2 linked regions of the Homo sapiens genome follow. The protein of the gene in region 1 interacts with the protein of each later gene in a pairwise test. Each region holds a gene or a part of one and is shown on either strand. Other genes may lie near its edges.

Region 1 (5,643 bases):
AAAAAAGCCACTGGAAGGCAGCTCAGCCTGAAGGCATCAAGCAGTGGTGGCGCCACGCAGTGGCAGGCGGGAGGGCTCAGCTCGGCCCTGGCTCCCACGGCCGGGGGCTGTGTGGCCCTGGGCAGACCCCTGCCCTCTCTGGGCTTAGCTTCCACCCCCAAAAAGCCAGGCGGGGGACCAGGCATCTACACACCAGGTGTCTACACGAGGCGACTGTGCTGGCCGCTGCCCGGGGAGAGGGGGAAGTGGCAGGCACCCACCTACCTTCCAAGCTCTCCTGAGCATCGGACGAGAGGCCCCCGTGCCGGAGCTGGTCATGCAGGAACTGGATGATGGCGTAGGCCAGGCGCTTCTTGTTGTCCATCTTGAGCCCAGAAGAGGTGATACCTGGGGGTGCAGGAAAAACCCCCATCAGGCCCCCTCACACTCCCCACTCCAGGCACCCCAGGCCTGCCCCTAACTAGCTGGGCCTCACTTTAAGGGTGCTGGCTGATCTCAGCTCCAGGACAGCCCAGGTAGAAAGGCCTTAATACGCCCATTTCACAGATGATGACCTGAGGCCCAGAGCTCACCAATCCGGCTATGCACACAGCCAGAAAGTGTGAGGCCAGCAGGCAAGCAGGGCCTGCCCTAGAGAACCCGCGTGCTCCCAGGGCCTCCTGAGCACTCCCAGGGTGGTACTGAGGCGCCACGGAGGTCCCCTCCGCCCCTGCTTCTGGCATGAGGTGGGTGGGGGCCAGGGATGCTGCCCAGCACCCTGCAGTGCCCAGGACAGCTCCACTCCAGAGAACGATCCAGCCCCAATGTCCACAGTGCTGAGAGGGAGAGACCTTGTCCTCAGCCAGAGCCACTGCCCCTTTCCTCAATTTACCTCTTTTGTGGCATGTCAGCAAGCATTTCTTAGGTACCCAACGGGGCCAGGTGTGCCTGCCCTGGTATCACTGTTTCACAGGACTTGCAGAGGACTCCCCCCAGGGACTTCTTGGGGACCCGTCTTGTTCCCCCTGGGAGGCCTACCTACCTCATTCCACCTCAGACCCCCCTCTAGTTCCCCCTCGGACACCCTCCTGTGCCCCCCTCGGACACCCGCCTGGTTCCCCCACCTGACACCCTCCTGGTTCCCCCAGCGGACACCCTCCTGGTTCCCCCAGCGGACACCAGCCTGGTTCCCCCACCGGACACCCTCCTGGTTCCCCCAGCGGACACCAGCCTGGTTCCCCCACCGGACACCCGCCTGGTTCCCCCCTCGGACACCCGCCTAGTTCCCCCCTCGGACACCCGCCTGGTTCCCCCCTCGGACACCCGCCTGTGCCCCCCTCGGACACCCGCCTGTGCCCCCCTCGGACACCCGCCTGGTTCCCCCCCGGATACCCTCCTGGATGCCCCCTCGGACACCCTCCTGGTTCCCTCTCAGAAACCCTCCTGGTTCCCCCTCGGACATCCGCCTGGTCCCCCCTCGGATACCCTGTCTTGTTCCTCATTCCCAGGACTTGACAGCTGCTTCTGCTCATGTCTGTGGTCCCTGCAGTTTCCTGCCAAAGCTCTAAAGGGTGCCAGATGGTGACATCAGGAGAGGCTGTTCTGGAATCTGGAGCTGTAGTCTATGGACAGGTCTTTTTTTAGTACAAGACCTTTCACACAGGTTTCCTGGGTGCCTGGGCCAACTTGGAGGGGCCTCGGCCACAGTGACCTTCACGGCTCTGAGCAGGAAGCCCCGACGTGAGCTTCCCCCGGGGCAGGCTGGCCGGCTGCCTTGAGGCGCCAGCTCAGGAAGGCTTGGCCTCACTGTGCCTCCATTTCCCCCGAAGGCTGGCGATGGTGACTCTAAACATTCAGATGTAACAAGCTGCGTGGAGAAGCAGCCGCCCCCGCCCCCGCCGCTGGAGCAGCCAAGTTCTGGGCTAGTCACGTCCACCTGGGACCTGAGCACGGGACCTTGTCTGTGTCTTTGCAGATGGAAACAAGTGGAGATGAGGTCGCTGTGGTGGCCCTAATGCAGGGATTGAACATGGCCGCACGGAGACGGCCGCGTGAAGACGGAGGCAGAGGCTGAGGCCATGTGGCCACACGAAGAGAGGTGAGGCTCGCTGGCCCCCAGCAGCTGGAAGAGGCAGGACGGAGCCTCCCTTGGGGCCTTCAGAGGGAACGTGGCCCAGCCTGCACCTTCATCTCAGACTTCTGGCCTCCAGAACTGCGAGGGAAATCAATCTTGGTTGTTTTAAGCCAGCCGGGTTGTGAGGGAGAGGCCAGGCGGTTCCCGGATCGTGGCCTGCAAAGCCTGTGAGCTCGGACGGGTTGTTCGGCCTGAGCCTCCGCCTCCATGTCTGTAAAATGGGGAGCTCCATTGTGGCTGCTGTCAGGGGTCGGGGAAAAAATAACCCGGAAGCTGTCAGCCCAGCGCTTGGCGCCCTGCGATATCTGTTGTTAATATCACGATTCTGCCAGGCGTGGTGGCTCACGCCTGTAATCCCAGCACTTTGGGAGGCCGAGGCAGGCAGATCACGAGGTCAGGAGACAGAGACCATCCTGGCCAAACACGGTGAAACCCCATCTCTACTAAAAATACAAAAATTAGCTGGCATGGTGGCACGTGCCTGTAATCCCAGCTACTCGGGAGGCTGAGGCAGGAGAATCACTTGAACCAGGGAGTTGGAGGTTGCAGTGAGCTGAGATCACACCACTGCACTCCAGCCTGGCAACAGAGTGAGACTCCATGTCAAAAAAAAAAAATCATGATTCCTCGTGGTGAGTCTCGTGGCATAGACCTCGGTTGGCTGTTTTTGGCAGTGTGACCTAGGGGAAGCGACTTAACTCTGCTGAGCCTCAGTTTCCTCTTCTGTCCCCCATGGATGGCGACAGCACCTCCCCATCGGGGGGGGGGGGAGGGGTACGAGACCAGGCGTGCACAACGCTGAGTGAACACCCCCACACAGGCAGGTACGTGGACGGGTGCTGGTGCACCCTCCGTGTCCAGATCAACACATGCTGAGGCTATTCCAGAAACGCTGCCCGGCTGTGCAGTTTCACTGGGAGCATTTGGAGAACCTGCTCTGAGGCCAGAAGCAGGCATGGAGAGGGGTTGCTGTGGTGCTGGCGCATGGAGGGGCAGCCCTTGGGGAGGCCCTGGCCGTGGGATGGGACCCCCATCCTCTGTTCTTGCGATGAGGTTCCCTTGGCTGGGCCTCCCTTCTCCACCTGCTCCTTCCGGGCTGGGCTGGGCAGCCGCCTTCCCTGGAATCCACTCCCTGTCCAGGGCCTCTGGTGTCTCTGAGCAGCTGGGTCTTCCCCATCTCTGTCCCTCACTGGCTGACATACAGGGTGGCGGGGCTGTGTGTCACCGGCCTTCCTCCGGGGCCGGGCCCAGCCCGTGCATAGTGGACCTTATTCTTAGTTGCACTCTGTGTGCCAAGACGCATGAGGCAAGGGGCAGGCCTGAGGCCTCAGGAGCTGGGGAACCACCGTGAGGAGAAGCACAGGTTTGAGATCAGACGCTCGGATTCAGGCTGGGTCAGACAGGGCCTGGCCAAGAGGCCGCCAGCCTCGGGATGGACGAGGAAGGGCGAGGCCTGAAGGAATCTTCTACAGTGACAGCTGCCTCTGGATAATTTCTTATTCTTCTCTGCTCTGTGCCCAGATCTGCTCTCCAAGAAGTGACTAAAGCCACAAACACCTACAAGGAAACTCTGACCCAGCACCCAGGAGGCCACGGCTCCTCCTTCTGAGCCAGCACAGTGCAAGGGGTCTCTGCCGCCAGGTCCCACTCCCCAGCTGGGCCCCAGGGACCCTCTGCGCGCAGCCACGCTGACAGGCGGCTCCAGGGGCTGAATACTGTCGTGTGCTGAACTGTGTCCCCCAAATCCATACACTGAAGTCCTAACTGCCAGGACCTTGGAATGCGACCTCACCTGGAAATAAGATCTTGGCGGACAGAATTTGGTAAGATGACATCATACCAGTGTACGGCGGGTCCCTAGAGCAATAACCAATGTCCTTATAAAAAGGGGACATTTGGATGCAGACGCATGCACAGGGAGAACACTGTGTGGATGTGAAGGCAGAAATGGGTGACGCGGCCACACGGCAGGGACACCGAGGGCAGAGATGGGTGACGCGGCCACAGGGCAGGGACACCGAGGGCAGAGGTGGGTGACGCGGCCACAGGGCAGGGACACCGAGGGCAGAAATGGGTGACGCGGCCACAGGGCAGGGACACCGAGGGCAGAGGTGGGTGACGCGGCCACACGGCAGGGACACCGAGGGCAGAGGTGGGTGACGCAGCCACACGGCAGGGACTCCGAGGGCAGAGGTGGGTGACGCGGCCACACGGCAGGGACACCGAGGGCAGAGATGGGTGACGCGGCCACACGGCAGGGACACCGAGGGCAGAGGTGGGTGACGCGGCCACACGGCAGGGACACCGAGGGCAGAGGTGGGTGACGCGGCCACACGGCAGGGACTCCGAGGGCAGAGGTGGGTGACGCGGCCACACGGCAGGGACACCGAGGGCAGAGATGGGTGACGCGGCCACACGGCAGGGACACCGAGGGCAGAGATGGGTGACGCGGCCACAGGGCAGGGACACCGAGGGCAGAGATGGGTGACGCGGCCACACGGCGGGGACACCGAGGGCAGAGGTGGGTGACGCGGCCACACGGCAGGGACACCGAGGGCAGAGGTGGGTGACGCGGCCACACGGCAGGGACTCCGAGGGCAGAGGTGGGTGACGCGGCCACACGGCAGGGACACCGAGGGCAGAGATGGGTGACGCGGCCACACGGCAGGGACACCGAGGGCAGAGGTGGGTGACGCGGCCACAGGGCAGGGACACCGAGGGCAGAGGTGGGTGACGCGGCCACACGGCAGGGACACCGAGGGCAGAGGTGGGTGACACGGCCACACGGCAGGGACTCCGAGGGCAGAGATGGGTGACGCGGCCACAGGGCAGGGACACCGAGGGCAGAGATGGGTGACGCGGCCACACGGCAGGGACACCGAGGGCAGAGATGGGTGACGCGGCCACACGGCGGGGACACCGAGGGCAGAGGTGGGTGACGCGGCCACACGGCGGGGACACCGAGGGCAGAGGTGGGTGACGCGGCCACACGGCAGGGACACCGAGGGCAGAGGTGGGTGACGCGGCCACACGGCAGGGACACCGAGGGCAGAGGTGGGTGACACGGCCACACGGCAGGGACTCCGAGGGCAGAGATGGGTGACGCGGCCACACGGCAGGGACTCCGAGGGCAGAGATGGGTGACGCGGCCACAGGGCAGGGACACCGAGGGCAGAGATGGGTGACGCGGCCACACGGCAGGGACACCAGATTGCCCTCACGTCCTCACAAGGAACGAGCCCCGACAGAACCTTGATCATGGACTTCCGGCCTCCAGGACTGAGAGACGATGAACTCTGTTTCAGCTGCCTGGTCTATGGCACTCTGTCACCGCGGCCCCAGCAAACCGACACTAACACCTGGCAAGCAGGCATCTCAGGACGCACCTCAGTCCTCGTGACGACTCCAACAAGCGGGTCGGCCCTGTCTCCAGCTGAACTGAGCCAGGTTGGGCAGGGACGCGTGGTCGCATGCCCAGGATCACATAGACAGGAGAACAAACGGGCTGTCATCACACGGAAGGGAGCAGT
Region 2 (3,232 bases), on another chromosome or scaffold:
TCTATTTTGCATAAAATATTTCTACATACGAAATTTGACTTTGCAAAGTGAAGATATTCTTGGCATAGTAAATTACACCAAAGAAGTATAGTTTGCTTAATGCTCTGATAAGATTGAATTAAGTAGCTCTTGTGTTTTGTATATTCAGCTTATAAAAGTCATATGGCATCTACTTTATAGGATAATAGGAATTTCCTATTTATACTCTCATTAACTATATGAGCCATTAAGTCAAATTATGCTATTCTCATATTATGACTGGGTAATACTTCCCAAGAGTCTAAGTATCTTATTTTAAATGGTTGCGGAACCATACACACTGTCTTCTGAAAAAAGAATGTATTATTCTCGTGTAACTTTCCCCATCAGGTTGGGTGACAGAATACCCTTTGAGGGAGCAAATGAACCTGATCAAGTTTCATTAAAAGAAGACATTGACATGTTGCAAAATGCATTAGCTGAAAATGACACACCCTATTATGATGTATCCAGGTGAGTTTATTTTTATAAAACTATCCAATGAGTTTTATTTTAGAAAATGTGTTTAAGAACTATAAACGTGCTTATTTTATCTCACCATGAAGCTATTCCGATAGCAAAACACTAGAGGTTTCTATGTGTCATGGCTTCATTCATCCTGATTTACTGCAGATCTTACAGCTGTACATAATTTTCATACTGAAAGGTTGTAACAAGCCAGGATGAACACACCATTCACTTCCATTCTGTTGCACATAATTCCAACATCACAGATTGTACCAATTCTGATAAAAGTACAGCATTTAGCATTCCAATGATGGAAGAGTTGCCAAGGAGTTTTGTCTCTATATAAAGAAAAGATACCTGATAGAGCTGTTCATTCATAGAGCTGTTTGTCTAGAGCATCATTTCAAGTACAGACCAAGTAGCTCTATAGTACTTGGTACAGACAAAGTATAAAAGGTGCTTCATTTGAAAGAGAAAAGGTGGGATGATAGGCCTTAATGCCTTCTCTATCTTAAGAGATTTTGTTTCCAAATATTTTGGAAAAAGAAAAAAAAAGGTGTACTGGGGTTTATGAACTTTCCAAAATCAGAATATTTTCCCATTGTGAATGTCTTTATTCAGTGGGGCAGACACAAAGCACCATGTACAAATAGCAGCTAATTTAAATAGATCATATTTTTACACCAATATTTCTTAGAAAGAAATAGTTATAAAGATTCAACCATGGAGGAATATTGAAATGTGCTCCTAGAAATGCCTGTTTCTTTAATTTTTCAGTGTCTTGGGCTAGAAATATAGGGTATATCTTGATATAAGTGACTAGAAGATCTCTTTTGTTAGGGTGTTAAGAAATCTCCTTTTGAACTTTAGTTTTAATGAGAAGCTTTCATAATAAGCCCATAATTTTTTTGTTATTTAATAAGCCATAATAATATTCTAGAAAGCCATTTACAAAATAATAGCTATTTTTTTCTTCCTTGTTTTAGAAATGCCAGGCATGCTGATGGAGTTTTCACCAGTGACTTCAGTAAACTCTTGGGTCAACTTTCTGCCAAAAAGTACCTTGAGTCTCTTATGGGAAAACGTGTTAGGTAAAGAGAATTTATTATTTTTATAAAATATGTTATCATTATTCAATCTGAATATTGTATTTTCACTCTTAACAAGTTATTTACTTTGTTTGAAATTGAAAACTCGTTGATAATGTTTAATTTAGTTAAATGAAATAACTTGTATTCTTCAATAACATCTATCAAGCCCATGGACTAAGACTTTTTCATAATATCATATTCATTGACTCCAGACACACATTTTTCTCAAGTAGCAATCATTTAGCAATCTGCAATCAAATTGAACAAGACTCAGTAAAACAATCAAAAAGAGATAGTACAGACTGAGGTAAATTTTAAGGTCAAACAGAATATTCTTTTTACTTCCTGCTCAAATTAAATGGAGAATTCCAAATGGCCAACAGTCAAATATTTAGATGACGTTGCTCAGGGTAGCATAGCTTCTAAAGAAGTAATTATGTTTTTTTTAAAAAAAAAAAAAATTTCTCCCAATGGCAGAGCACAACTTCAGCTATTCCCAAATTTTTATTTTTGGATGAATTATTTGCTCAGCTGTACAGAATGTGTCATAAAACAGTCCCAGGCCATGCCAAAATATGGCAGATGATTCCTTGCTTTCCTTCATCCTTAGGTTTAGTTGTATTTTTCTTTTAGTCTTTTTATGATAGAAAATTAGTTGGGTGGGAATTGCTTTTTATGTGGCTCCAAGAAACCTGGAACATGTGTGTATTTATCATTTCTTGTGAAAACTCTTTGATTTCCTTTTCCTCATGTTCCTTAGCAGTAACATCTCAGAAGACCCTGTACCAGTCAAACGTCACTCAGATGCAGTCTTCACTGACAACTATACCCGCCTTAGAAAACAAATGGCTGTAAAGAAATATTTGAACTCAATTCTGAATGGAAAGAGGAGGTAAAGAAAAAGAGAACTTGCTAAAATGAGGAATCATGACTGACTTTCAAAATAGAAGCTGCACATGGAGACCTCTCTATCTCACTTATCTAGCTATACTACGTGAAGCAGTGATTTTCAACCTTGGCTGACATTAGACTACCCCGCAGAACTTTAAAAATACAGATGTCTGGGCCTTCTCCCAAACCAATTGCCAGGAAATCGGTGTCTTCGGTGGTGTGGCCCTAGACATACATTTCTTTTAAGAGTTCCCCAGTTGACTTTACTATGCTGCCAGTGTTAAAAATGATGACTATACAGACATCTAGTCTGAATCTAAGAGCAAGTTTCATCAAAAGTGATGATTTTTAAAACATGTAAAGCATAGTCAATTGCAATTTGGTAACACATGGAACTCACTTCGTGTGCATATTCACTACTGTTATTTAATCAAATTAAACCATTAGGTATTTTGTATATTTAGATTCTGTAAAATCTATATCTCTCTATGGTGTGTAAATATTGGACACAATACATAAACAGTGTAGTGTTCTGTCTTTTTATTCCAATTGTTTTTGTTTAAGTGATGAGTATTAAGGATAATTCTGTTTGGGTGTGATCAGACAAGATGACCTCTTTGCCCACTAGATGATAATTCTGTGAGAATAATTTTAGAAACTCTAAGATTGATGAATAATTCATAGGTACTAACAAACCTCAAAGATAATTGTTTAGCCTCCCCATACACTTTCAGAGCACAGAGAACAGCACATTCATTATGTCA

Evidence for each region. Proteins that work in one complex are often made in the same cells at the same time.
Region 2: the proteins of SGTA (region 1) and VIP interact in binary tests that used the Homo sapiens proteins (3 or more experiments, as listed by UniProt).

Annotation. Positions count from the first base shown.
Region 1 is NC_000019.10:2,768,705-2,774,347, forward strand, and holds part of SGTA (small glutamine-rich tetratricopeptide repeat-containing protein alpha), read right to left. Parts: intron 388-5,643; 5' UTR 365-387; coding exon 265-364; intron 1-264. UniProt on the Homo sapiens protein: Co-chaperone that binds misfolded and hydrophobic patches-containing client proteins in the cytosol. Mediates their targeting to the endoplasmic reticulum but also regulates their sorting to the proteasome when targeting fails.
Region 2 is NC_000006.12:152,753,797-152,757,028, forward strand, and holds part of VIP (VIP peptides isoform 1 preproprotein), read left to right. Parts: intron 1-369; coding exon 370-492; intron 493-1,079; exon of another isoform or gene 1,080-1,472; coding exon 1,473-1,577; exon of another isoform or gene 1,578-2,337; coding exon 2,338-2,469; exon of another isoform or gene 2,470-3,232. UniProt on the Homo sapiens protein: PHM-27 and PHV-42 are two bioactive forms from proteolysis of the same precursor protein, that cause vasodilation. PHM-27 is a potent agonist of the calcitonin receptor CALCR, with similar efficacy as calcitonin.